Homo sapiens: one gene and its partners. The protein of the gene in region 4 purifies or fractionates together with the protein of the main gene of each other region. This does not show direct contact. Each region holds a gene or a part of one and is shown on either strand. Other genes may lie near its edges.

Region 1 (3,500 bases), on a different chromosome or scaffold from region 4:
ACATAACTTATATTTAGAGAAATGACTATGCTAAGTGATTGCACTGATTATCAACTACAAGTGTTTATGTGTATATAGGAAAAGGGAAGCAATAGTTCTTTTGCATCATTGTCAGTAGAAGAACTTTGAAAGCAGTTAAATAATTCCAGTTTTAGTTCAGTGTCATCAGGTATTTCAAGTAAGTAAATCATTTAAGTTAATTCTACAAATGGTTTGGTTTTTTTCTTTCCATTCATTCATGGGATTAAGGTAAAGTTTTTGGAAGTATATTCTATTAAACATAAAGCCTTTGTGAGTGAGATTGGAAATTCAGTTTAAAAGTTCAATATAGAAAATAAAATTATTAGTTTATAGTAACAATAGAAGTACAAATTTTGGTGAAGCACAGTGTTGTGGTAAAAACAATGTTTTTACTACGTTAAGCAACCTGTGGAGTAGTTGACATTGGTTGTGGCACACACACAATTGATCATTACATCTAAACAAGCACCAAAAGTCTTCTATTTTAATAGAAGCTATTGTTACATCAAAATTTACAAATATCTGAATAGTCACAGTCACTGAACTATATGATTTGGGAGTTGTAACTGATGTCAGATAAAAAATACACTTCAGGCCAGGCACGGTGGATGTCAGATGAAAAATACACTTCAGGCCAGGCACGGTGGCTCATGCCTGTAATCCCAGCACTTTCGGAGGCTGAGGCGAGTGAATCACCTGAGGTCAGGAGTTCGAGACCAGCCTGACCAAGATGGTGAAATCCCGTCTCTACTAAAAATGCAAAGAACATTAGCCGAGTGTGGTGGCACATGCCTGTAATCCCAGCTACTTGGGAGGCTGAGGCACGAGAATCGCTCGAACCTGGGTGGTGGAGGTTGCAGTGAGCCAAGATCACGCCATTGCACTCCGGCCTGGGCAACAAGAGCGAATCTCGGTCTCAAAAAAAAAATAATAATAATACACTTCAGCAGAGCAGTATGTGCCTTTTCTCTTTGTTGTCTGTCGTTGATCAGATTTTAGAAATCTTTATAAATCAATCTGTGCCCCCAACAGTGGTATTGAACTTTATTCTAAATGGGTCATCAAAAGTTTGGTGGCATTTGGGCACGGTGGCTCACGCCTGTATTTCCAGCACTTTGGGAGGCTAAGGCAGGCGGATCACTTGAGGTCAGGAGTCTGAGACCAGCCTGGCAAACATAGTGAAACCCCGTCTCTACTGAAAATACAAAAATTAGCCAGAGGTGGTGGTGCATGCCTGTGATTCCAGCTACTCAGGAGTCTGAGGCACAAGAATCACTTGAACCCAGGAGGTGGAGGTTTCAGTTCAGTGAGCCCAGATCACGCCACTGTACTCCAGCCTGGGTGACAGGGTGAAACTCTGTGTCAAAAAATACTACTACTACTACTACTAATAATAATTGGCAGCATTTCGTTCAACATCACTTGAGAATCTTAAATCAAGTATTCAATAAACAGAACACTACATGAGACTTTTAGGGAATTACAATTAATGAAAACAAAACAAAACTTCCATTAGAATTTTTCCTGACAAAAGCAAAGAAGGAATGATATAAACAGTAACAACTCAAACGATATACAAGATTAAAATTTTCAGTTCTGTAGTTGCGATTTGAAATGTCTCACCTTGCAGGAAGAATCTTGGTGGTGCTCCTACTTTGAATAAATTGCACACACACACACACACACACACACACACACACACAGACACACGAAATGAGATTGAGAAGGCCTAGATTTTGCACCATCTAAATTTGGCAAAACATTGAAAAGAATCATAGAGACAACTTATTTGACAAGTTTTGTCTTATAAAAATATTTGTTAGGCCAGGTGCAGTGGCTCACGCTTATAATCCCAGCACTTTGGGAGGTTGAGGCAGGCAGATCACCTGAGGTCGGGAGTTCGAGACCAGCCTGACCAACATGATGAAACCCTGAAATTATCAGGGCATGGTGGTGCATGCCTGTAATCCCAGCTACTTGGGAGGCTGAGGCAGGAGAATCGCTTGAACCCAGGAGGCTGAGGTCACAGTGAGCCGAGATCGCACCACTGCACTCCAGCCTGGGCAACAAGAGCGAAACTCCGTATGGAAAAAAAAAAAAATACTATTTGTTAAAGTAAGATACTCTGATGGAAGCAAAAAGAGAGTGCCTCTAAAAATATTTGGGCTGAAATATTTATACTGTTCAACATTTTTAAAATTAGAATTATGTCCTCCATTTAGCAAATTTACTCTGAACTTATCAGGTAACTTAGAACCTGTAGAAAGAGAATTTTCTCCATAATTGAAAGTATCAGTAATTTCAAACTAACCATAAACTGCAACTGTGAAGAATATTGCGGGCAGTTTTATTTTTAAATACTGTATTTTAATGAACACATTCTTCAGAAAAATGCCAGTGACACAATATTAGAGACAGATATGTCTAAGAAATGGATTAAACTATGTAGATATACATCAATAATAATTCTCATTATTTTTAAATATTCAGATAATCAGTATAAAGAAGTTATTGTTCTATTGTATGTACATGTATGTTATTTTTATTTCTTTTGAAATTTTATTTTTGAAAACAGTTTTTGAATAGAACCTGTTGAGTCCACCAATATAATAAAATCAGCTGTTTGTTTTTGAAATAAATACATATTTATTTCAATATAATAAAATCAGCTGTTTGTTTTTGAAATAAATACATATTTCAAAAAGTATAAAATTTTAGTTGTTTCAGCGCTTCTTTTTACTCTTGTGTCCCAGTTTGCATGATAAATTATATAGTATTCACACTTTAAAGACATTTCTCATAAGTTATATGAGATTTTTCTGCTTACATCCTGTTGACCAGAATTTAATTATATAGCCATACCTAGCTGTAAGGGAAGCTAGAAAATGTAATTTTTATTGTAGGTCATCATGGATCCAGCCAAAAATCTGGAAGATACAGATAAAAGATACTAGGAGACAAGTAACATTCTGCCCTACCTTCTCATCATGTGTTTGCATTTTTGGCTAGCACATATACTCATGAGGTAGACCTGCGGAATTTAAGGGAGAAAGTAGTATGGTACCTTTAATATCTAATTTATATTCATATTTTTTTAAAAGCTAAAGTAAAAAATGAATTGATCCTATTAAGCAGACTATTAGAGAATCTTGGTCAGGCATGGTGGCTCATGCCTATCATCCCAGTACTTTGGGAGATGGAGGTGGGAGGATAGCTTGAGCCCAGGAGTTGGAGACCAGCCTGGGCAACATAGCAAGACCCTGTCTCTACAGAAAAAAAAAACAAAAAACAAAAAACAGGCATGGTGGTGCATGCTGTTAGTCCTAGCTACTCAGCAGGCTGAGGTGGTAGGATTTCTTGAGCTTAGGAGTTGGAGACTGCATTGAGCTATGAATGCACCACTGTTTCTCTAGCCTGGGCAATAGAGCCCCTGTCTCAAAAAAAAAAAAAAAAAAGAAAGAGAATCTGATGTCTCTCTC
Region 2 (4,081 bases), on a different chromosome or scaffold from region 4:
CGTGAAGCTCCAGAGAGCCAAGTCAATGACTGGAATTTCGATAGCACAAAACTGTATTTAAATATAATAACTAACGAATAAGTTGTTCATTAAATAAAACTTGTTGTTTGAGGTACCCATCATTGAATATGGGGGGGTAGAGTCTTGAAGATCAGCTGTTATGGGTGTTGCAGAGGAGATCCCTGCATAGATAGTAGATTGGATTAGAGAGCCTCTTTCAATCCTAAAGTGTACGAATGTGCTTTGTCAAGCATTATAGAAATGCAAAGTAGTATTATTCATCTGATGCAGAAATAAGTGAATTTGTGCTATTTAAATCCTGAAGTGCAGGGATGCTAAATATACATAAGATCTGAATATTAATATAATTGAGTATTTTTTTTGTAGAAATAGGAGTTGCTCTAGCCTGTCCCTTTTACTCCTCTCCACCCTACTCCCCACAAGAGTCAAGAACTTTTGTGCTCTGTTCCCTTCCTTTATCATTTGCTCTTCTTCTTTCTTCAGTCTTGAGTGCTCGGCAGTTGATTCCTGTGCTTGGGTTCCCTAAAACTGTATATATATATATACACATATATAAATCAAAGCGTGTTCTTCCCCTCACTCCGGGTTCTTCTAGCTGTGGGTGTCACCCACATAGCGCTGAAACAACGAACAAGGGAGCATTGTCCTCGGCTAGTGGGCGCCTGGTCCATGTGGCAGCTCAAACCCAGGAATTGTGGGGTCTAATCGAGGTGGTTAGATGAGGCTCCTCGTTTTCGGGAATGGTGGTCCGCAAGGTCTTCTCGAGGCCCCTCTACACACTCCCCAACTTAGGTCACAATTTATGTATCTGTCTGGTTAAAGCTTCGTATTAGAAAGGGAGGGAACCCAAAGTATCTTTTCTCTTCGGGGTCTCAACCGGCCAACCACCACGTTTTTAGGCCGACCTGGGAGGCAGGGGGAACGCAACAGACTGCGAAGTCCTTAAGGAAGAATCTAAACAAGTCCGCCGTTTGCTGTTTGGGAGTGCGATACAAAATGAATATGTACGCAGGTGGAACGTAGACTGCAGATTTTGAGCCAGCGGCGTTTCTGCCGAAATCCTGGCAAATTCCGGTAGAAGTCGGCTGCAGGAGGCGGAGGAGGAGACTAAAAAACCAGAAAACAACCAGCAAACCAGCTAGGCAGAGCTGAGCGGAGAAGCTCCAGAGCCTTTTAAAGAGACTCTCGTCACATGACACCCCCAACCCCGACCCCCAGCCGGCGCGCCTCCGCCCTCGGGTGGCGGGGCCGCCTGGCGTCACTTCCGTCCAGACCGGAACCCAAGATGGCTGCGCTGTTGCTGAGGTGACTTCAGTGGGACTGGGAGTTGGTGCCTGCGGCCCTCCGGAGATCTGAACTGGCCCCTCACGTTTTGCTGATAACTGTTTATCCTGTGCCTGGGCAGGGAAAGGACCCATGGGTGTGGAGGCCAAGCGCTCGGGGATCCTAGAGACCCCTTTTCCCGTCCCCCCCAGCCGCTCCGGTGCGCTCCGTAGGGCTTCGGGGTCACTGACTTCGTATCGAGGGGCCCTCGGCTCTCGCCCCTTCTGTTTTCCCCACCTCCTCTAGTACTTCTAACGCAAATTGCTCTCGGGCCTGCACCCAGAGCCGAGCTCTGAGAAAATAACTTCAAGGTCAGCCACCCATGGGTCCTACGATTTCGAGAGCGTATTTAGACATTTAGCTTCGGAGAGAGAGATCTTCGTGTATTTTGCCTTTGCTTCGAATGCCTTCAGACACTAGCTGCTCCCACCGTGAGTGGGCGCTGTCTGGGTTCCCAGCGGGCTGCTGGCAAAGGGTGGATCCCTACTGGGGTGGCGATTAGCATTAGCACCCAGGGCGGACCTCTGCTGCCCCAGAGCAACCCGGGGAATTCATTTTTAGTTAATCATTTTACTTGGGAGGGAGAGTGAGTGTCCCAGTTTTTCTCTAAAATGTGAATTAGTTGTCCAGAGAAATACCCTAGATTTTCTTTCATTCTGAACTTTCCGCTGTCTAGGTCTCATTCTCTGCTCAGCCTCTCTAGTCACAGCGACTAGCGCCTTTAGACACGCCTGGTACAAATCCCAGCATAGTTTTGTGCCAGCCTTATTTTTGGAAATTGTTTGTTATGGAAAGTTAGCTTCAATGCTGTTGAGATTTCAATCCCTGATTTCCCCAAATGTGTTCTCATTTCTCTTTCCACTTCAGTCACCCAGTTTAAAAATAGAGGGACTTTGTTTAGTTTTTCTGTGACAAAATGATTCCTCTTGGAGTTGAAATCAGGGTTATCTTAATCCTTCATTTTCTCCCTGTTTTTCATCTCCATATGTATCTTCTGTCTAAGGTATGCCAAGGCTTGTCTTGCCAGTGCTGTCTTCTTTATTCCAGATGGTTTGACCATAATTGAATGCTTTTGAATTCTCTGATATATTTTGGTATCGATGTTAGGGGCTTTTGGTAAAATTAACATTTAGTTTGAAGTGATCATATTGGTTCCAAACAGTTCATTTTAGGAGTTTTGGAATTAGTGTTTAAAAGCTGAGGATCATTATAGTCATTAAGTGTATCCATACAGTATCATTTTGAGTTGTGCAGCGCTGTCCACTGAAGGGATGGGTCGCCCCTCCACACCTGTGGGTGTTTCTCGTTAGGTGGAACGAGAGACTTGGAAAAGAAAGAGACACAGACAAAGTATAGAGAAAGAAAAAAGGGGGCCCAGGGAACCGGCGTTCAGCATACAGAGGATCCCCGCCGGCCTCTGAGTTCCCTTAGTATTTATTGATCATTATTGGGTGTTTCTCGGAGAGGGGGATGTGGCAGGGTCATAGGATAATAGTGGAGAGAAGGACAAAGGTCTCTGCATCATAAGGTAAAGAATTAAGTGGTGTGCTTTAGATACGTATACACATAAACATCTCAATGCCTTGAAGAGCAGTATTGCTGCCCACATGTCCCATCTCCAGCCCTAAGGCGGTTTTCCCCTATCTCAGTAGATGGAATATACAATCGGGTTTTACACCGAGACATTCCATTGCCCAGGGATGATCAGGAGACAGATGCCTTCCTCTTGTCTCAACTGCAAAGAGGCGTTCCTTCCTCTTTTGCTAATCCTCTTCAGCACAGACCCTTTACGGGGGTCTGGGGGACGGTCAGGTCTTTCCCTTCCCACGAGGCCATATTTCAGACTATCACATGGGGAGAAACCTTGGACAATACCTGGCTTTCCTAGGCGGAGGTCCTTGCGGCCTACCGCAGTGTTTTGTGTCCCTGGGTACTTGAGATTAGGGAGTGGTGACGACTCTTAATGAGCATGCTGCCTTCAAGCATTTGTTTAACAAAGCACATCTTGCACAGCCCTTAATCCATTTAACCCTGAGTTGACACAGCACATGTCTAAGGGAGCACAGGGTTGGAGGTAGGGTTACAGATTAAAATGGAGTCTCTTATGTCTGCTTTCTATACGGACACCTTAACAATCTGATCTCTCTTTCTTTTCCCCATAGTCCACACTAGGATTCAATGCCAAGAAAGGTATATTTTTCATTAGTGGTAATCTGAAGCTCTCGTGGAAAGGACACCTCCATTTCTCATAAGGGATTTTTTTAGGAGGATAAATGAGGAATTAAAAATTTTTTTTTTCTTGATAGAAGTTCCCAGTCTAATTCCATTTCACTAGAGGGATTTGGAACTGTTTATAATGTGCTGATTTAACCTCAAAGGAAAATACCTTCTGAGAAATCCTAGGAGCTGATTTCTGGTTCTACATTTATTTTGGACAAGTCAAGGTCATTGATTCCATGATTTTGGTTTCCTCATTTGTGTTGCAAACGGCAATAACTTGGGCCCACTTAAGAGAAATATTGGTTAAACTTTTCTTTTTGTTCTTTTTTTGGGGGTCTCTTTTTTTTTGGTTCTTTTTCTTTTTTTTTTTTTTGAGACGGAGTCTCGGTCTGTCACCCAGGCTGGAGTGCAGTGGCACGATCTTGGCTCACTGCAACCGCCCCTGCCCGGGTTCAAGCATTTCTCCTGCCTCAGCCTTCTGAGTAGATGGGATTACAGCAGGGGTCTGCCACCACGC
Region 3 (4,277 bases), on a different chromosome or scaffold from region 4:
AGGGCTAGAGACTGGGCTTTACTCTGATGAAAATCCCTGGAGGCTTTTGTTGAGCAGAGGAGTGAAATGATCCGATTTACAGTTTAGATTGTTAAAAGAAAAACTTTAAACAAGTTAAATCTAATAAAGTTTATTTGCACGAGCGCACGTGCACACACACACACGATTTATGAGGCATTCATCAGGCAGCAGCACTTAACAGGGAGAGGTTCAGAGAGCTCTACCCAGCACTGTGGGCAGGCAGTATTTATAGACAGAAAAAGGAAGTGCCCCACAGAAACAGCTTGATTGCTTACAGTTGGGCTAGTCTTATTTGGGCAGGACATTATGACGTATTTGCCTTATATGCACATAGTCTGATCAGTTGGCAGCCTGTGATTGGCTGAAGCTCAGCTACTTGTCACAAGAATATACTCTCAGTTGCAGTTAATTTACATACTAAGTTAGGTTGCAGTTCCCTACATAGCAACTCAGAGTAGGGAGGAAATTTTAGGCCAAATTTAATTTAAATTATGTTGGAGCATGACCAAAGTTGGTCATGACCAGAAGCTGAACACAGATATGGAAGCTAACACAATATCCAGTGGAGAGAGATTGTGGTAGAGTACATGGGGCGAAATGGTTGATTTCTGCATTTTTGTTGGTGACGCCATCAGGATTTGCTGAAGAACCAAACGTGTGACAGGAAAGGACAACACAAGGAGCTGCCAGCTTTGGAAACCAGTTCTACTCTCAGTATTACCTTCGCAAAAGATAGAGCTTTGTAAATTTCTAGATTCCTCGTTCTTATTATCCTAGACTATTTAACCAGAATCTCCAGGGTCGTGGTCCTGGAAACAATACGTTTAAAACTCTTCCCAAGGATCCTTCAGCAGCCAACTTGACTTTGGCTAAGGAGTCCGCCAGCTCTGGGCTCACTTGGGTTGTTTGCAAGGAAGAGCCCATGCCCAGAGTATAAATTGGGAGAACAGCGCTGTGCAAAGAGCGTGGGTTGGTGAGCTAGTGGATGGCGAGATTAATCTCACTCTGATCCCTAAAGCAGGGTGCAGTAATACTCTAAATGCCTCAAATGGGTTGGGAACCATGGAAGGAATCCCGGAGGAGCCCGATCTTAACGAAGCTTTTCTCAGGCCTTTGGTAGGAGGACAGAAACGAAGTTGAATGAAAAAGACAGTGGAGTGGGACTGAGAAATGACAACGGCCCACCACAGACCTCTCTCTTTCAAGGCCTGTGTCGTCAGGACGCAGGCCAGAAGAAGCCACGACGAGGCGCAGGCGCGACTCCACGAGGGCCACGCCCCTCCTAGAGAAGGACCGACCCGTTTTCCGCCCGCAGCGGAGCTTGGGTTTCCGGGAGGACCTGATTGTGCAAGGGACCAAACCGGATAGAGGTCGCGCGCCCTCTTTCGTCTGCCTTCCGGTTCACTAATACGCAAGTTCGCAGAAGTGCGGGAACGCGCCGTCCCTCTGCGCAGGCGCAGTCGGCGGTCGGCGTGGGGCGCTATGCCGGGGCGGCACGTTTCTCGAGTCCGGGCATTGTACAAGCGCGTCTTGCAGCTGCACCGTGTTCTGCCCCCGGACCTCAAATCCCTGGGCGACCAGTACGTGAAAGACGAATTTAGGAGACATAAGACCGTTGGTTCTGACGAGGCACAGCGTTTCTTGCAAGAATGGGAGGCAAGTGACGCTCCCTTCTCTTTGCCCAAGACCTTTGGGGTTCCTCGGTGTCCAGGTTTCTAGTTCCAGTCCCCCATGCGGGGTTAAACAGAGCAGCAACCTGTTCTGTTTGAAATAGCGTAATGCTGTTCAGGTAACACTTTCCAAAGTTTCTCCCACGGGTTTCTCACTAGAGCAGATCCTGTTACTTCAGCGTCCCCAATTCAGTTCAACTTTTGAGCTCCTGCAGATGCCAGGTGCTCAAAGGGTGAGGGTAGGAGGTCACAAAAATGAGCAAGTCGTCGTTAAGTGCTCAAAAACCTCAGGAGCTTTTTGTCCTTTTAAGTGCCTTTGCACCTAGTAAGCGCCCATTAATAAATTAATGGTTCTCTTATTAGTTTTCAAATTTAAAGGCTTATTTCCGTAATTTATTATTTAATCTCAGCGCTTTTGGTTGGGTTTAAATAATTTTCTCACTTGGCTGATACAGAAATCAGGTAACATGAAAAAGATTACAAAAGGTTGGAGATTACAAACTGTGAAGGAGAAAAATGCTGGTGGCAGTTAAGTCAGGCGAAAGTTGTTTCCTCCGGTCTCAAGTCATTGTTACTTCGCCCTGCACCATTGCGCTAAATATTAAACAGACACATGCATTAGCAATAAGTCGTTTGACTTTTTTTTTTTTTTTTTGAGTAAAGGAAAAAAGATATTCAGAGTATTTCGTGGGGCTCGGGGCCCTGCAGGATTGCCCCTAGTTTTCATTTGCAAATATAAATAAATGAATGGAATTAGAGATTGGAATGACAGCTCAGATATTTGAAAGCATGAGTTGGAGCTGATATGAAAATAGAGGTAAGCGGTTCTTCGGCCTAAATAGTTGAAGGGGAGATGACTGAAGTCGGCTTTGTAAAAAAAAATCAAAAGAATGGTTAGGGTGAACACAAACTTTGCACTGACTTCCAGAATTCTTTTTTGTATAATTATTGAAGCTTTTAAGAGCGACATTTAGAACAATCGGGAAATTTAGAACTTTCTTGAAAATCATGGTGTATTTGATGTAATTCGCTTGCCTGAAGCAGGGAAGTTGAAGCTTTTCAGACACAGAGCACTTTATTTTAATAAGGTAATTTGGTTTTGGAGCCTGAAGAACTGGATTCAGATTCAGTCTCTGACATTTTAAGTGTCAGATCACATAATTTTTCTAGTCTTATTTTCTCATCTATAAAATAATAAGTGTTTATGCATCTCAAAATTTACGTATGTAAATGTATTTACAAGCACTTGTGTATTGCTAATTGTTATGAAGCTATAAGATACTGTATTAAAGTATTTTACATCTTTTATGGTAGGTCATTTTGTGGCCGTACAGGAAGGAGAGTAGCTCTCTGTTGGGAGGAAATAAGGTTATTTTAAGAAGTCTTAAAATGTAAGCACATGGAAGCCTCTTTGGGAAAAAGTAGGAAAGAGTAGCAACTCAGAAAAAATTGATAATAGGTTGTAGGAGAGAGAGAGGGTATAAAAAAGAACTGCATAAATAAAAAATGTGTTAGTTGACCTAGTAGGCTTGGTAACTGGGATTGAGCTTTTTAAAACTTGGAATAATTTTAGACATACAGAAGAGTTAGAAAGACAGTAGAGAGTTCCCTACATCCTGTTTCCCCCTGTGTTAGCATCTTACATAATCAGGGTACAGTGATCAAAAACAAGAAATTAACATTGCTACAATGCTGTTAACTACAGACTTTATTTACAATTTGCCAGCCCTTTCACTAATGTCCTTATTCTGTTCCAGGATCCAATGGGGATTCTACAATGCATTTAGTTATTCTTTTTCCTTAATCTCCATTCTGTGACAGTTGCTCCGTCTTCCTATCTTTCATTACCTTGATACTTTTTTGAAAAGTACTAGTCTGTTACTTTGTGGAATGTATCTCAATTTGAGTTTGTCTGATGTTTTCTCATGGTTAAATTGATGTTATGCATTTCATAACATCTCAGTAAGAATACCACATGGGCAAAGTGTTCGCCTCAACACTTAATGTCAGAGGGCACATGATACTAACATGACTTCTTACTGGTGATGATAACTGTGATCACTTGGTTAAAGTAATAATCCACGTGGTGTCTCTACTGTAAACTTACTATTTTCTCTTTTGAAATTAATACATATTTGGGGGTAGGTACTCTCAGGCTTTCAGATGATTACTAGTCTTAGCATTCATTGATGGATTTTGCCATTGTGTTCCAATGGTGGCTCTTTTGTTTCCCTCATTCCTTCTGAATTTATTAGTTGACACGCGTCTGTAGAGAACAGTTTTCCTGTCTTCCCCGACCATTGTTGATCTACTGGAATTAATGAATTGGCAGCTGGGTAAAGATAAATTTAAACGTAGTAATCTCTTTGTATAACATAATTATCACAGTTACAAGGCAGCTTAATCTAAGCCTGGGAGTTAGACGTGGTAGGTTGGATCCTACCAGGAAAGATACTTGAAGAACTGGTCTTTTTGAAAGAGTAGGGCTAGAGAAGATGCTAATGATTGGAGGGGAGAAAAACCTGGCTAGAGAAGTTTTATCACCAGAGAGTAATATACTTAAGACTTCCAAGTCTTTTTCCCCCC
Region 4 (3,500 bases):
GAGATCACCTAAAGAGGAGGAATCAGAATTTAGGTTGGGGAAGAAAAGGGCAAGGGTTTCATTTGTCCCTGTGCTTCTGTCTTCTGGGACTCTCTGAGGGGTAAGACAGTGGTGGGCACACACAGCCAAAGGAAGCTGGGGTACAGGGGAGTGCGACTCTGAGTGTGGAGTTTATTACTTGGCAGGAAGCACTTCTAGTCTTTAACACATGCCCGTAAATGCCATTGGGAAGATTTGTTAATAAAATTATCTGGAAAGATTTGTTGAGTACCTTTTCTGTGCCAGATAGGTTAGGTTATAAGCATATTACAGGTAGCCTTTCACTCACTGCTCCAGTCAGCCCTTCCTGGAGTTCCCTGTGTCTCCACCACGCAGATGAGGAGACTGAGGCTAAGGATGGAATCACTGGGCGAGTCGGGGAGGGGTTGTGATCTGGAATCTGTCGGGTCTCGCTGCTCCTCTGCTGAGGTCAGCCCTCACTGGGAGTCACTGTGTGAGTAGTTGGCTTTCTCTGAATCCCCCCAGCGGGTGGATTTGGGCCTGGAAGACAAAGTTGGCGCTCCTGTTTGTGGCTTGTAAGGAGTGGTTGGTGTTTCCAGGGAGGAATCAATGCTGCTCTGGGGAACATGGAGGAGGACAACTGGAGGTGGCATTTCTACGACACCGTGAAGGGCTCCGACTGGCTGGGGGACCAGGATGCCATCCACTACATGACGGAGCAGGCCCCCGCCGCCGTGGTCGAGGTGATGGGCGGGAGGCTCTGGGTGTTCTCGTGGTCTGTTTCTAGTACAAAAGAATCCTGGAAAAAAATGTAAGCAATTGAGGCGGATGTGGCAGCCAAAAGAATGGTGATGAGCAAAGTTCACAAGAAGAGTCTTTTTCCGTTATGAACTATGCATTATATGTAACAAGAAAACTTCTCTTTGATGAAGTGTTGACATTTTCATAAAATAGGTTACTTTGGGTTTGCAGATTTGTGTTAAACTTGTTTAGTGTAGATTAGCTGCGAATATCTTGACTCCTTTAAGGTGTTAAGGTTTTTGTTTGTTTTTATCTTTCACAGCTAGAAAATTATGGCATGCCGTTTAGCAGAACTGAAGATGGGAAGATTTATCAGCGTGCATTTGGTGGACAGAGCCTCAAGTTTGGAAAGGGCGGGCAGGCCCATCGGTGCTGCTGTGTGGCTGATCGGACTGGCCACTCGCTATTGCACACCTTATATGGAAGGGTAAGGCCGCCCCCGTCCACCTGAGACAGGACACGTAGTGCTGGGGCTTATGGTGACAGTGGGGAATGGGTTAGCGTGCCCAGTGAGTCAGCCAGAGATTACGTAAAAAGCAACAGAGAACAGCAGCGTGGGGCGCATGCAGCGACTGTGGATGTGACAGGACCAGACGTGTGCCTTGAGGAGCTGTCCCTAAGGCAGTGTGTGACTTCTTGCATCTATGTCAGAAAGTTGAATCGATAATCTTACATACCAGGTTTTAACTTGGGATATGTGACACTCAACATACAAGAGCAGAGCAAGCAGGCCAGGCACAGTGGCTCAGGTCTGTAATCCCAGCACTTTAGGAGGCCAAGGCAGGAGGATCACTTGAGACCAGAAGTTTGAGACCAGCCTGGACAACATAGCAAGACCCTGTCTCTACAAAAAGTTTAAAAATTAGCTGGGCATGGTGGTACATGCTTGTAATCCCAGTTACTCAGGAGGCTGAGGCTCCTGGATCACTTGAGACCAGGAGGTTGAGGCTACAGTGAGCCATGTTCGTACCACTGCACTCCAGCCTGGGCAACAGGAGACCCTGTCTCAAAAAAAGAGAAAGAACAGGCTGGGTGCGGTGGCTCACGCCTGTAATCCCAGCACTTTGTGAGGCCTAGGCGGGCAGATCACAAGGTCAGGAGTTTGAGGCCATCTTGCCTAACACTGTGAAACCCCGTCTCTACTAAAAATACAAAAAAATTAGCCAGGCATGGTGGCAGGCACCTGTAGTCCCAGCTGCTTGGGAGGCTGAGGCAGGAGAATGGCGTGAACCCAGGAGGCGGAACTTGCAGTGAGCCGAGATCGCACCCCTGCACTCCAGCCTGGGCAACAGAATGAGACTCCATCTCAAAAAAAAAAAAAAAAAAAGAACAAGTATTTTAAGTCTCTTTTACCACCTCTGAGTTCCTGAATGGATTGGTTTTGTTTGTTTTGTTTTGTTTTGTTTTTGAGACGGAGTCTCACTCTGTCACCCAGGCTGGAGTGCAGTAGCACAATCTCAGCTCACTGCTACTTCCACCTCCTGGATTCAAGTGATTCTCCTGCCTCAGCCTCCCGAGTAGCTGGGACTACAGGCGCACGCCACCATGCCTGGCTAATTTTTTGTATTTTAGTAGAGACAGGGTTTCCCATGTTGCCCAGGCTGGTCCCGAACTCCTGAGCTCAGGCAGTCCACCTGCCTTGGCCTCCGAAAGTGCTGGGATTGCAGGCGTGAGCCACCGCACCCGGCCATGGATTGTTTTAATATTAACTGTTAACACTGAAGAAAGACTTGAGGTGACAATAGTTACTGGGTAATCAGAGTCAACTTTGGCATGGCCAAATAATATTCTGAACGGTATTGATTCAGAGTAATCAATATTCTGAACTTTGTTGTTTTCTGATGCATGGGGACGGATCGTTAATTTGCAGGTTGTTAGAACACCAGTGACTTCTCTGTGGCTGAGTGCATCGACAAGTGTGTGGTGGGAGGAGACCGCGGCTCCATCTGGAGCAGGAGCTGTCATGTGGGGAGCTGGCCCAGGCTTACAAGAGCGACTTGTGCTGGCTGAGGGAACGGCAGGTCCAGGCGGGCAGCGCTGTCCGGCGCCTACCTTTCTGCGGTGCCGGAATCTGCTCGTCTGCAACCGTCCGCTTTGGTAGCTGCCAGCCACATGGGGCTGTTGCTAATGTGGCAGGTGTAGCTGAAGAGCTGAATGTTTTGACTTATTTTAATTAATTAAGTGGTTATGTGTTGCCAGTAGCTCCCATCTGGGCTGTGACTGCATGGTCTGCGGACCTCACTCTGGCACCAGACTCCGAGTGGAGCTGCATGCGGCCACCGGACAGTGTGGAGTGCCTCTTCGGGTTGTGTAGAAGTAGGAAATGTGTCACCAAAATAGGAGCTGTTGCTGCTGCGTTCTCTAGCACACCTGCCTTGTCTGTACTGCTCGGCGTGGAATGCCTCTCGGGCTCTGACAGTGTCACTGACACTGTTGCTGATCTCCTTGGATTTACCTGGTCCATTTGGATCAAGTTCTTTCACCTATTCACATGAGCAGATACCACCTTAAAACCTTAAAGTTTGGCTTAACACTTCTTGCCCTTTTTTTTTCCTTTCTTTTAGTCTCTGCGATATGATACCAGCTATTTTGTGGAGTATTTTGCCTTGGATCTCCTGATGGAGAATGGGGAGTGCCGTGGTGTCATCGCACTGTGCATAGAGGACGGGTCCATCCATCGCATAAGAGCAAAGAACACT
Region 5 (3,500 bases), on a different chromosome or scaffold from region 4:
AAAATCAAACTTAGAACTACCGTTTGACCCAGCAGTTCCACTCTTAGGTGTGTATCTAAAGGAATTGAAAGCAGGGACTTGAACAGATATCTCTGTAACTATGTTCATAGTATTATTAACAGTAGCCAAAAGGTGGAAACAACCCAATGTTCACAAACAAATGAATCATTAAACAAAATGTGGCATATACATCCGGTGGAAAACTATTCAGTCATAAAAAGCAATTAAATTTTAATATATGCTACAACATGGATGGACCTTGAAAACATTATGTTTAGTGAAATAAGCTGGACCCAGAAGGGCAAATATATGATTCCACTTATATAAGGTACCTAGAATAGGCAAATTCATAGAGACAGAAAGTAGAATAGAGGCTATCAGGGACTCCGGGGACTAAGGGAGAAGTCATTGTTTAGTGGGTACAGAGTTCATTGTGGGGATGATGAAAATGTTTTAGGTATAGATAGTGGTGATGGTTGTACAACCTTGTGAATATATTTTTGTTGTTGTTTTTGTTTTTGAAATGGAGTCTCACTCTTTCACCTAGGCTGGAGTGCAGTGGCACACTCTCGGCTCACTGCAACCTCCGCCTCCCAGGTTCATGTAATACTCCTGTCTCAGCCTCCCGAGTAGCTGGGATTACAGGCACACCACCACACTGGCTCATTGTTGTATTTTTAGTAGAGATGGGGGTTTCACCATGTTGGCCAGGCTGGTCTTGAACTCCTGACCTCAAGTGACCAACCCCCCTCGGCCTCCCAAAGTGCTGGGATTACAGGCGTGAGCCACTGTGTCTGGCAGTGAATGTATTTAATACTACCAAATTGTACACTTACAAATGGTTAAATGAGAAATATTATGTTATATATATTTTACCACAGTAAAAAAAAAAGAAAGCAAAAACCTGCACTTTTCAAAAGCTAATCATCTATTTGACATAATGGTAGGCATTCAACGTAAGTCTTGTATCACTCAAGTTTATGTTGAACCTACCATCCCTTAGAAATTTCTGACAAACATCACCAAATACAGCAGGTACTCTTCAATCCTTGTTTTATTTGAACAATCCACAACCTTTGACAGTGTTAACTATTGCTTCTGGAAATCTCCTGCCTTGATTTCCATTATGCTTTCATTAGTTTCATTTTTGTGTGTGTATGTATGTGTGTGTGTGTTGTTTTGTTTTGTTTTGTTGAGACAGGGTCTTGCTCTGTTGCCCAGGCTAAAGTGCAGTGGCATGAACACATGGCTCACTGCAGCCTTAACCTTCCCAGCTCAAACTGTCCTCCTGCCTCAGTCTCCTGAGTAAGTGAGACCACAGGCACATACCACCATGCTCACCTAATTTAAAAAATTTTTTTGTAGAGATGAGGTCTTGCCATGTTACCCAGGCTGGCCTCAACTCCTGGGCTCAAGCAGTCCTTCTGCCTCGGCCTCCCAAAGTGCTGGGATTACAAGTATGAGCCACCATTCCTGGCATGCTTTCTTTAGTTTCTCACCCTATTTCTTCACCAGTTTCTTCCTGGGCTCCTTTTTGAGCTCCTCTGCCTCCGCCCAACACCTAAATGTGGGTATTTGCCAGGCCTCTGTTCTTAGCCCCCTAAGTATTCCAAGGGAGATTTCATATTTCCCTAAAATGATTAGATTTATTTGATTGATTGAGGCAGAGTCTCACTCTGTCACCCAGGCTGAAGTGCAGTGGCGCCATCACAGCTCACTGCACCCTCAACCTCCTGGGGTTCCCTACTCAGCCTCTCCTGTAACTGGGGCTACAGGCACGCACCACCACACCTGGCTAATTTTTCTATTTGTTTCTTTAAGAGATAGAGCTCAGTATGTTGCCCAGGCTGGTCTTGAACTCCTGGGCTCAAACGATCTTCCCACCTCAGCCTCCCAAAATGCTGAGATTACAGGCATGAGCCACCACGCCCGGCTTAAAATGATTTTAAATATCACCTATGTGTTGGTGATTCATACATTTATACCTCTAATCAGACCTCGTTCCTGAGCATCACTCTCCTGTCTCCATTTGCCTCCTGAGTATCTTTCTTTGCACATTCCAGAAGTCTCAAAATTAATATTTCTAAAACTAAAGTCATCGTGTACCCATTGTTCCAACTCACCTTCGGCCCTCCCACCTGCCTGATCTCATATCCTCCTCTTCCTTCGGGATTTCCAGTCCACCCCATCTACCAAGTCACCCAAGCCCGAAATCTGGGGATAATCTTTCACTCCTGCCTCTTCCTGTCTCCTGTGACTGATCACTAACCAAGTCCTGTTGCTTCTACCCTTTTAACATCTCTCAAATTTATTCCCTCTTACTCATCCTACCAGTAGGGCCCAAATTCAAGCTGTCTCTAGCTCCACTGGTCACCTAACAAGCCTCTCTGCTTCCTCGTTTCCTTCCTTCTAGTCTTGTCTCCCTGCCTCTAGTATGTACTTTATTCTAAGAAAACTGTGTAGGTTGTCTCCTTGAAAAGAGTAGATTTCATTATTAAGATCATAAAGGAAAATGTTTGTAGCTAGGCACCCTGCTTGACATAAAGATGAATAAGAAAGGAAGATGAGATAATGTAAATAACGATGAACAGGACATCATGTGGTAACTAGCATGAGAGATACACAAAAAGATCAGAGGAAAGTCGACAAAAGAGATAACGTTTGAGCTGGGGTCTAAGGAAAAATAATTTTTTGTTTTTTTGAGTTGGAGTCTCGCTCTGTCACCCAGGCTGGAGGACAATGGCGCAATTTCAGCTCACCGCAACCTCCGCCTCCCGGGTTCAAGCGATTCTCCTGCCTCAGCCTCCTGAGTAGCTGGGATTACAGGCGTCTGGCACCACACCTGGCTAATTTTTGTATTTTTAGTAGAAACGGGGTTTCACCATGTTGGTCAGGCTGGTCTCGAACTCCTGACCTCAGGTGATCCACCTGCCTTGGCCTTCCAAAGTGCTGAGGTTACAGGTGTGAGCCACCATGCCTGGCCGGAAAAGTAAAATTTTTATAAGTAGATAAGGTGTGGTGAGGAGACATTTCAAAATACCTGGAGAAAGCTATGGTCAAAGAGAAAGAGGCTGCAGAACATTAACACTTACAAGACACAGCTAATGGGCCTCTTTGGCTTCAGCATAAATTATATATATATTTGATTAATACAGGGTTGTCCAATCTCTTGGCTTCCCTGGGTCACATTGGAGGAAGAATTGTCTTAGGCCACACATAAAATACACTAACAACAGCTGATGAGCTAAACAAAAACAAAAACAAAACAAAACAAAAATCACACAAAAAAACTCAATGTTTTAAGAAAGTTTATGAATTTGTGTTGGGCCACATTCAAAGCCATCCTGGGCCACATGCAGCCCGTGGACTGTGGGTTAGACAGGCTTGGATTAATTGAATATAAAGCTAGACACACAGGTTCAGCTCAAATCTGGGAGGGCCTGAAATCCCAGGTTACAGTGTAAGGGCTTTATGCAGTGAGCAGTGAGGAAATGTATTTG
Region 6 (3,500 bases), on a different chromosome or scaffold from region 4:
TACCACCAGCATCACCACCACCATTACCACCATCATCACCACCACTACCATCACCTTCATGAGAAATAAAGTTCTACTTTTTAAAATGGGAAAATTTATAAAAATGTCTTAATTTGAGGGACTGATGTTAATTCCAGGGAACATTCTGGAATGGGATGTGGAATGAGCTTTTAGGATTGAAGCTGTGATTTCAAGGAACCAGCATGGAATCACTGAAATTAGTTTATGTCAGACCAACAAAATTGCTTCTTTGACAAGATTATTGGACGGAAGATCAAGGAAATACCAGTGATGAAGAATATTTGGAGTTTATCAGAGACCTTTGATAAGATTCTTCTAATAATGTTGAAAAAGATGAAGAAATATGGGCTCAGTTATAGTACAGAAAGCTGAATAAATTTTCTAAGTAAGTGCTGTTTAATTATTGAATTAATATCTATGTTTAGGGAACATACAGTGGAATGCCTCAGAATCCCATAGTGTTCATTATTTTTATTGATGACTTAGATGAAGAGGTCGTGCTCATCAGATTCAGAGATGGCAGGAAGCTGGCTGAGAGGGCCGGTAAATACACTGGATGCTAGAATCACAGCCAGAAATATCTGGGCAAGTTGGCGAGGCAGACTGAACTGAACAAGATAAAATGAGAAACAATGCACAGTCTCTAGAGTGGCTGTGAGGGGGTGTGGGCAAGTATCGGGTGAAGGCGAGCAGGTGGGCAATGCAGTTCAAGAGCAAGTTTAAAAGAGAATTGGGTTACTTCAGTTGATATTAAGCTCAACAGGTGTCAATGGTATAGATTCTTAATTAGACCTTAAAGAGTTTTAATAGAAATAGGAAATAGAATGAGGAGGTGGTAATTTCAGTCTTCTCCATGCTGATTAGGACTCCCTTGAAATTTTGCACTTTATTCTTTAAGAATAAAGAAATTAGAGAAAACTAGGACAAGAGTGATGATAATAATAGTGAGGGCACTGGAGCAAATGGCCCATGAGGTAGGGTGGAGCAGTGAAAAGGGCGTTGGCCAGGGATTTGAGAGCCAAGTTACCCCATTAATAGGTTGCGAGATCTTAAGAGCTGGTTCAGGACTCCCTGAGGAGAAGCACAGACTATGGTGGTTGACTGGTCTGCTCTTGTAGGTTTTTGGTTCCCCGCCCTTTTCCCCCTTCTCTTCCAGGGGAGGAGATGGGGCCAGCATCCACCAACTCCCATCAGTAGGAGAGGGGAGAGTTGCTGGCTTCTGGGTTCTTTCCTCGCAGAGGCTCATGCATGCACAGCCTGGGCCTCTGGGAGTGTCCAGGTTGGAGGGATCCTCGCCATCTGTTGATGGTGTTGTGTGGGGAGTTGGAGCAGTTGGGGGAGCTGGAACAGATGATCTTAGTAGTTACTCCCATCTCTGAGAGTCTAGATTTCAAGACACGCTGAAATCAGGTCAGGCCACACTATGGATGGGTTCCTTTCTCCCTCCTTCACCCATCCAGGGACAGGTTCTCTTAAGACCCTGAGCAAAATTTTGCACTCTTGATATGTGATTCAGAGTCATAAATTATACCCATTGTTTCTCTTGGAAAGCTTTCAAAAGTCCCCTTTCTGTGATTTCCCAGGAAGCCAAGATGGTGGCAATCCTAATCCACATCACAACACACAGCAGTTATTGAGGCAGTAAAGCAAAAGGTCCAAGAAAAAAAGAGAAGATAAATAAAGAGAAAAGGCTTTGAAATCATATAGACCTGAGTTTCAATCTCAGTCTCTCCTATCAGCTTTGTGACCATAGGCAAATTACTGAAACTTTCTGAGACTCAGTTTCCTTATCTGTGAGATGGGGTTAATACCAGGAGTGTAGTGATGTGAATATCAGGTGAAGCTATGCGTGCACAGAACATAGCCCAATGTGGGACTCAGAGTCGGTGCCCAGTAAGTGCTATTGCTAATATTACCACAACATTTACTACCACCATCCCTCCTTTATCTTTCTCTCCCTCATCTCTTCGGGGCTAGGCACTGTGCTAGTGCAGAGGATACAGTGGAAAACGAGACAGACATAGACACACACTTTGCTTGCACCAAGCTTACACTGTAGCACAGTCCAGTTAAACTTTTTGCAATGATGGAAATCTTTTAAATGTGCATTCTCCAATATGATAGCCAGAAATCACATGCTGCATGTAAGCACTAGCAATGTGACTGGTGTGACCGAGGAACTGAATTTTAAATTTCATTTAATTTTAATGAACTAAAGTTAAACAGGAAATAGTCACATGTGAAAACAGACAGCACAGCTCTAGACACCTTTCAGGTATATTTCTGGGACTGACTAGCCTGAGCAGAATAAAGGTATGCTGAAAGAGAAATGCACGTAAAGCATCCAGTACAGGACCTGGAAAATTCTCTTATTCGTTCATTCGTCACATTTAATTGTTGACTATGGATTGGCACTATCTCAGGTGCTGGGGATACAGAAAAGGATTAGACATGGTCTCTGCCTTCAGGGGGCTCATAGTTCAGTGGGAGATATGCAAATAGTGACTTCGCCATAGCGAGGTAAGCTTACGCACAGGTGCTGTGGATTCAGGACATCTCTAGGGTGGGCTTCCCTGAAGGATGTTTCCGGACCTGAGCTGAATCTTGCATAAATTGATCTCAGAGTGGGAGCAACAACAGATTATATTCCAGGGCTACTAAACCCACTGCTGGTGGCAGAGGTGGCTTGGAGATCAACGAGGCTCTAGGAACAACTCATAGCTAGGGCCAGTTTGTTTTCTTCTAACCCTTTGTGTGTGTGTGTGTGTGTTTTGTATTGCCTAATTCAATCTCTCTTCTGCCAGCCACATTTTGTTTCCACCTGAGGACATTTTTTTTAAATGATGGGTATAACTTTATTTTTAAATTGTTTTATTACTATTAATAGTTACTAGCCTTGATTTCTTTTTTTTTTTTAGTCAGACAAACTCTGTTACTTATAAAGTGACATCAGCTCTCACTATGGTTGGGTGTGGAATTCTGATACTTGGTACAAATAAACAACTCTTTGAATATGGCCAGTATGTGAGGAAGCTGTTGCTGATGGGTTAAGCTTGCTGAACCTGGCTGTGATCATGATGCACGTTCACAAGAGTGAATGTTGTTATAATGACTTGTATGGAGAAGTGGGACATTATACACATTTGTATATTTTACATGATGGTTTGATTTGTTCAAAGTTAGTATGTGACATTTAGCTAGAGAATTCTGCAGCTGATACTTGCTCACATAAAAATAGGTATAGCTTTATGTTGTATGGTTTCCATAATCCCTCCCGAGTGTATAAAGCAAGGTGATATGTGTGATTCCTTCTTCCATGAGACTGAAGAATGCTCGTGTGATGTGGCTTGGTCGTGTGAGGCCTTGGCCTATTTGGATTCCTAAAGGTCATCTGCTTGAACTATGGCCGAGTTGTTTCTGGTGAATGGAATCCTAAATTAGTGTACCCTTTTTGAAAAGTGGCTTCTCATATATACTGT
Region 7 (3,500 bases), on a different chromosome or scaffold from region 4:
TTTGTGGCTGTAATTACATGGGAATGTCATTTGTCCAGGTTTTGTCTCTGTGTATCTGTCAGGCTTAGAGATGGGCAGATAAACAATTCTATGGAGAGACTGCTTTTCATTCTTGGACTAACGATGAATACCACACATTTGTCTACGGATTAAAGGTATTACTCATTAAAAAAAAAATGTATACATGTGTATGCACAGCGGAGGGAGGGAGAAAGCAAGGGGAAAAACAGTTATGGCTTATACTCAATTTGTACTCTGAAGAAATAGGACTTGTTTATATTTCATGTAAAAATATTAGAAGGATTGGCCAGGTGCAATGTATTGGCCAGGTGCAATGGCTCATGCCTGTAATCCCAGTACTTTGCAGGGCCAAGGTGGGTGGATCACTTGAGGGCAGGAGTTTGAGACCAGCCCGGCCAACATGGCAAACCCCCATCCCTATGAAAAATACAAAAATTAGCTGGGTGTGATGGCGCACACCTGTGGTCCCAGCTACTAGGGAAGCTGAGGCAGGAGAATTGCCTGAACCTGGGAGGTGGAGGTTGTAGTGAGCCAAGATCACACCACTGCTTTGTAGCCTGGGCCACACAGCAAAAGACTCTGTCTCAAAAAAACACAAAAAACAAAAAAACAAAAAAAAGTTCATAGAATGCTAGTACAATCTAACAGATATCTTTTCCTGAGTAAATATTATATTAAAGAACAGAGCACTTCATTTCTAAAAGGTGAAGTGTCAGAAAGAGTGTGTGTGATATCAATCATTAGAGAAATTATGATAAATTGTTCAAAATGATACAGTTTGGCAATCAGATTGGGGAAGGTGCGGGAAAGCTTATTTTGATTGAATTCTTGGGAAGAAAAGATGAAAAGTCAACGCCTGCATACCAAAAGAAGATGGCAAAAATGAAAACACAGCAGAAGTCCTCTATTGTTTGGGGATGTCATTCTTTTCCTCATTAACCTCTTGGGATTTTTGGGTACTATTTTAAGATTCTTCACCGAAATATTTTCTAGGAAAATTAGCTCCCAAAAAAGAGCTATGAGGCTTTAACTTGAAGAAAGACAGAACGTACATACTGCTTTACAACTGTTGGCTATCAGGCTGGCGGTCTTCTTGAATGTCTTCTCAAGGTAGTGTGCAAATCTTTCATTCTCATTTTCTTTTGACCCGAGCTGAAGAAATTCACCTATAAAGAAGGAAAGGAGTCATTTGAGAGGTGGCTTTATTGCCTGGCTAAACACCAGGGTTGAATAACAAAGAAGAAAAATCAGAATCAACGTACCACGCACCAAATCTTCAATAACTTGGGTTAAAATAGATATAACAGTTGTATTTCCAATTCGTGCCAGAGCTATAGATGCTGCAGAAAGAATTAAATCTCCAGCAAGAACAGCCTAGAAAAAGACAGGGGGAAAACAGAACGTTCTGAAAAATCCATCAGAGCAGTAGAGCCAATGATGAAACTGACTGGAAGGGAGCTTCGTGGAAGTGGGGGCTCATCTTGGATGCAGGGTTTTTTACCTTCTTCTTCCTCAACAGGAGTCCGTAACAATCAGTTACAGATTTGGAACAGTGTTTGAACTGGACTGGCTCTCAGAGATGACCATGTCACTTCCCAGTTCGTAATAATCAGTTACAGATTTGGGACAGTGTTTGAACTGGACTGGCTCTCAGAGATGACCATGTCACTCTTCCCAGTTTCTAATAATCGGTTACAGATTTGGGACAGTACTTGAACTGTATTGGCTCTCAGAGATGACCATGTCCATCTCCCCAGTTGACACCTGAAGAAATCAATGCCTGGAGAGGGAGAGCAGCTTCACTCACCAGCCCCACCAAAATGCAGCTGCCTTCAGTTTCACTACACTGGATGTTCATTCTTCCTTTGTGCCTTTCCACTTACTGTTCCTTCTGCTCAAAAAGTTCTGCCCCCTTCTTCACTGAGTGGACTTATTTGCATAATTGGTTCAGATGCCACCTCTAAGAAGTTCCCCCCGATCCCTCAGTCTGGTCAGATGCCTCCCTTTTGTGCGTGTACAACACCCATGCATGCTGCGACCATCACACCTTGCGTACCAGTCAGTGATGCTCTAGTCTCTATGCTCCCAGGGCAGTGGGGAGGGTGGAGTGGAGTGGGAGCTCAGACTAGGAATCATCTCAGCTAGTACTGAGCACACCCCAGAGCATGGCACGATACATGTTATTTTCAATAAAAATTAAACCAAAGAATTTTGGCTCCAAGTGAAATGCTTTTTGTACTATGTGACACTGCCCCTCATTCCTAGACAAAAAAAAAAAAAAGTTTTTCCATTGAACACTAAGCAATCAACATATTTCCAGTCTTCTTTAGACTGTGATGGATGTCTACACTGTATTAGCAACTAGTTATAAACTACTGCATAAATAGTTGAATTATATGCTATAACCAAATACACCCTATATATCACATTAATTTGCATATTTAAAGATATATATTACATTCTTTTTTTTTTTTTTGAGAAAGAGTCTTGCTCTGTTGCCCAGGCTTGAGTACAGTGGCATGACCTCGGCTCACTGCAGACTCTTCCTCCTGGGTTCAAGCAATCCCCCCACCTCAGCCTCATGAGTAGCTGGGACTACAAGCGTACACCACCACGCCCAGGTATTTTTGTATTTTTACTAGAGATGGGGTTTCACCATGTTGGCCAGGCTGGTCTCGAACTCCTGGCCCCAAGTGATCCAACTGCCTCGGCCTCCCAAAGTGCTAGGATTACAGGCGTGAGCCACCACACCCAGCCGTAAGTGTTACATTCTGTAGTAATTAGTCATAAAGGCTAGAGTTCACAGAATTTTTAACATAACTATTTAGGTACTTATTGTCTTAGGTTCTTCAGTATCTAAACAGTGATGTTCATTGTGTTTACCAATTAATCACCACTTTATATAATATACATATTATGTAAGACATCCTGATGTAAGTATATGCCTATAAAGTCATTTTACAAATTATGATATATAGGTACCCACTTACATTCCCCGACCCAGCCCCTACATCATTAGCAGCTCAAGGCTCGGGATCCTTTGGCCTTTAGTTCCTTCTTCACCTGGCCGGGGAGATCCTAGAGACCAAAGGTCCAGCATATGACATGGAAGCCACAGGACTGTGACGGCCAGGGGTGGGAGTTAAAGGAAAGAAGTGCTAGGAAGCCCAGGCCAGGCCTAACAAGGGCTCACCGAGGGGGCACTGTGTGTGGGGGGTTTTGTACCGGTAACATAGCAGTTGTGGGTCAGAGGCAGAAACAGGTAGGAACTGGCAAGTAGCCCTGTGCTAAGCAGATGGCTGTCAGAACTGAAAGAGGCAGGTGAAGGCGGCACATGTGTCCTTGACCTGCCCTCAGAAAGAGGTCCCCAGTGGCAGAGGCAGACACACAGGGGCTAGCCAAGGCGGAGACCATCATTTGTTCTCTTGATCCTCTTCCCCCGCCCAAGGCTCCACATAAGGCTTTAGGACTGGCTATGC

Evidence for each region.
Region 1: the proteins of SDHA (region 4) and PDSS2 purify together in Homo sapiens (affinity purification with mass spectrometry; 2 studies listed by BioGRID and IntAct, with this or other methods). This does not show direct contact.
Region 2: the proteins of SDHA (region 4) and SDHC fractionate together in Homo sapiens (co-fractionation; one large-scale study listed by BioGRID). This does not show direct contact.
Region 3: the proteins of SDHA (region 4) and SDHAF3 purify together in Homo sapiens (affinity purification with mass spectrometry; 2 studies listed by BioGRID and IntAct, with this or other methods). This does not show direct contact.
Region 5: the proteins of SDHA (region 4) and SDHAF4 purify together in Homo sapiens (affinity purification with mass spectrometry; 2 studies listed by BioGRID and IntAct, with this or other methods). This does not show direct contact.
Region 6: the proteins of SDHA (region 4) and DGKG purify together in Homo sapiens (affinity purification with mass spectrometry, with the first as the bait; one large-scale study listed by BioGRID). This does not show direct contact.
Region 7: the proteins of SDHA (region 4) and PDSS1 purify together in Homo sapiens (affinity purification with mass spectrometry; 2 studies listed by BioGRID and IntAct, with this or other methods). This does not show direct contact.

What each region holds. Positions count from the first base shown.
Region 1 is NC_000006.12:107,267,565-107,271,064, reverse strand, and holds part of PDSS2 (all trans-polyprenyl-diphosphate synthase PDSS2), read left to right. Parts: intron 1-3,500. UniProt on the Homo sapiens protein: Heterotetrameric enzyme that catalyzes the condensation of farnesyl diphosphate (FPP), which acts as a primer, and isopentenyl diphosphate (IPP) to produce prenyl diphosphates of varying chain lengths and participates in the determination of the side chain of ubiquinone.
Region 2 is NC_000001.11:161,313,100-161,317,180, forward strand, and holds the start of SDHC (succinate dehydrogenase cytochrome b560 subunit, mitochondrial isoform 1 precursor), read left to right. Parts: upstream 1-1,281; 5' UTR 1,282-1,306; coding exon 1,307-1,326; exon of another isoform or gene 1,327-1,775; intron 1,776-4,081. UniProt on the Homo sapiens protein: Membrane-anchoring subunit of succinate dehydrogenase (SDH) that is involved in complex II of the mitochondrial electron transport chain and is responsible for transferring electrons from succinate to ubiquinone (coenzyme Q).
Region 3 is NC_000007.14:97,116,221-97,120,497, forward strand, and holds the start of SDHAF3 (succinate dehydrogenase assembly factor 3, mitochondrial precursor), read left to right. Parts: upstream 1-1,477; 5' UTR 1,478-1,503; coding exon 1,504-1,677; intron 1,678-4,277. UniProt on the Homo sapiens protein: Plays an essential role in the assembly of succinate dehydrogenase (SDH), an enzyme complex (also referred to as respiratory complex II) that is a component of both the tricarboxylic acid (TCA) cycle and the mitochondrial electron transport chain, and which couples the oxidation of succinate to fumarate with the reduction of ubiquinone (coenzyme Q) to ubiquinol.
Region 4 is NC_000005.10:224,820-228,319, forward strand, and holds part of SDHA (succinate dehydrogenase [ubiquinone] flavoprotein subunit, mitochondrial), read left to right. Parts: intron 1-599; coding exon 600-743; intron 744-1,063; coding exon 1,064-1,228; intron 1,229-3,365; coding exon 3,366-3,500. UniProt on the Homo sapiens protein: Flavoprotein (FP) subunit of succinate dehydrogenase (SDH) that is involved in complex II of the mitochondrial electron transport chain and is responsible for transferring electrons from succinate to ubiquinone (coenzyme Q).
Region 5 is NC_000006.12:70,580,430-70,583,929, forward strand, and holds part of SDHAF4 (succinate dehydrogenase assembly factor 4, mitochondrial precursor), read left to right. Parts: intron 1-3,500. UniProt on the Homo sapiens protein: Plays an essential role in the assembly of succinate dehydrogenase (SDH), an enzyme complex (also referred to as respiratory complex II) that is a component of both the tricarboxylic acid (TCA) cycle and the mitochondrial electron transport chain, and which couples the oxidation of succinate to fumarate with the reduction of ubiquinone (coenzyme Q) to ubiquinol.
Region 6 is NC_000003.12:186,355,735-186,359,234, forward strand, and holds part of DGKG (diacylglycerol kinase gamma), read right to left. Parts: intron 1-3,500. UniProt on the Homo sapiens protein: Diacylglycerol kinase that converts diacylglycerol/DAG into phosphatidic acid/phosphatidate/PA and regulates the respective levels of these two bioactive lipids.
Region 7 is NC_000010.11:26,721,701-26,725,200, reverse strand, and holds part of PDSS1 (all trans-polyprenyl-diphosphate synthase PDSS1), read right to left. Parts: intron 1,396-3,500; coding exon 1,284-1,395; intron 1,188-1,283; coding exon 1,078-1,187; coding exon of another isoform or gene 1,074-1,077; intron 1-1,073. UniProt on the Homo sapiens protein: Heterotetrameric enzyme that catalyzes the condensation of farnesyl diphosphate (FPP), which acts as a primer, and isopentenyl diphosphate (IPP) to produce prenyl diphosphates of varying chain lengths and participates in the determination of the side chain of ubiquinone.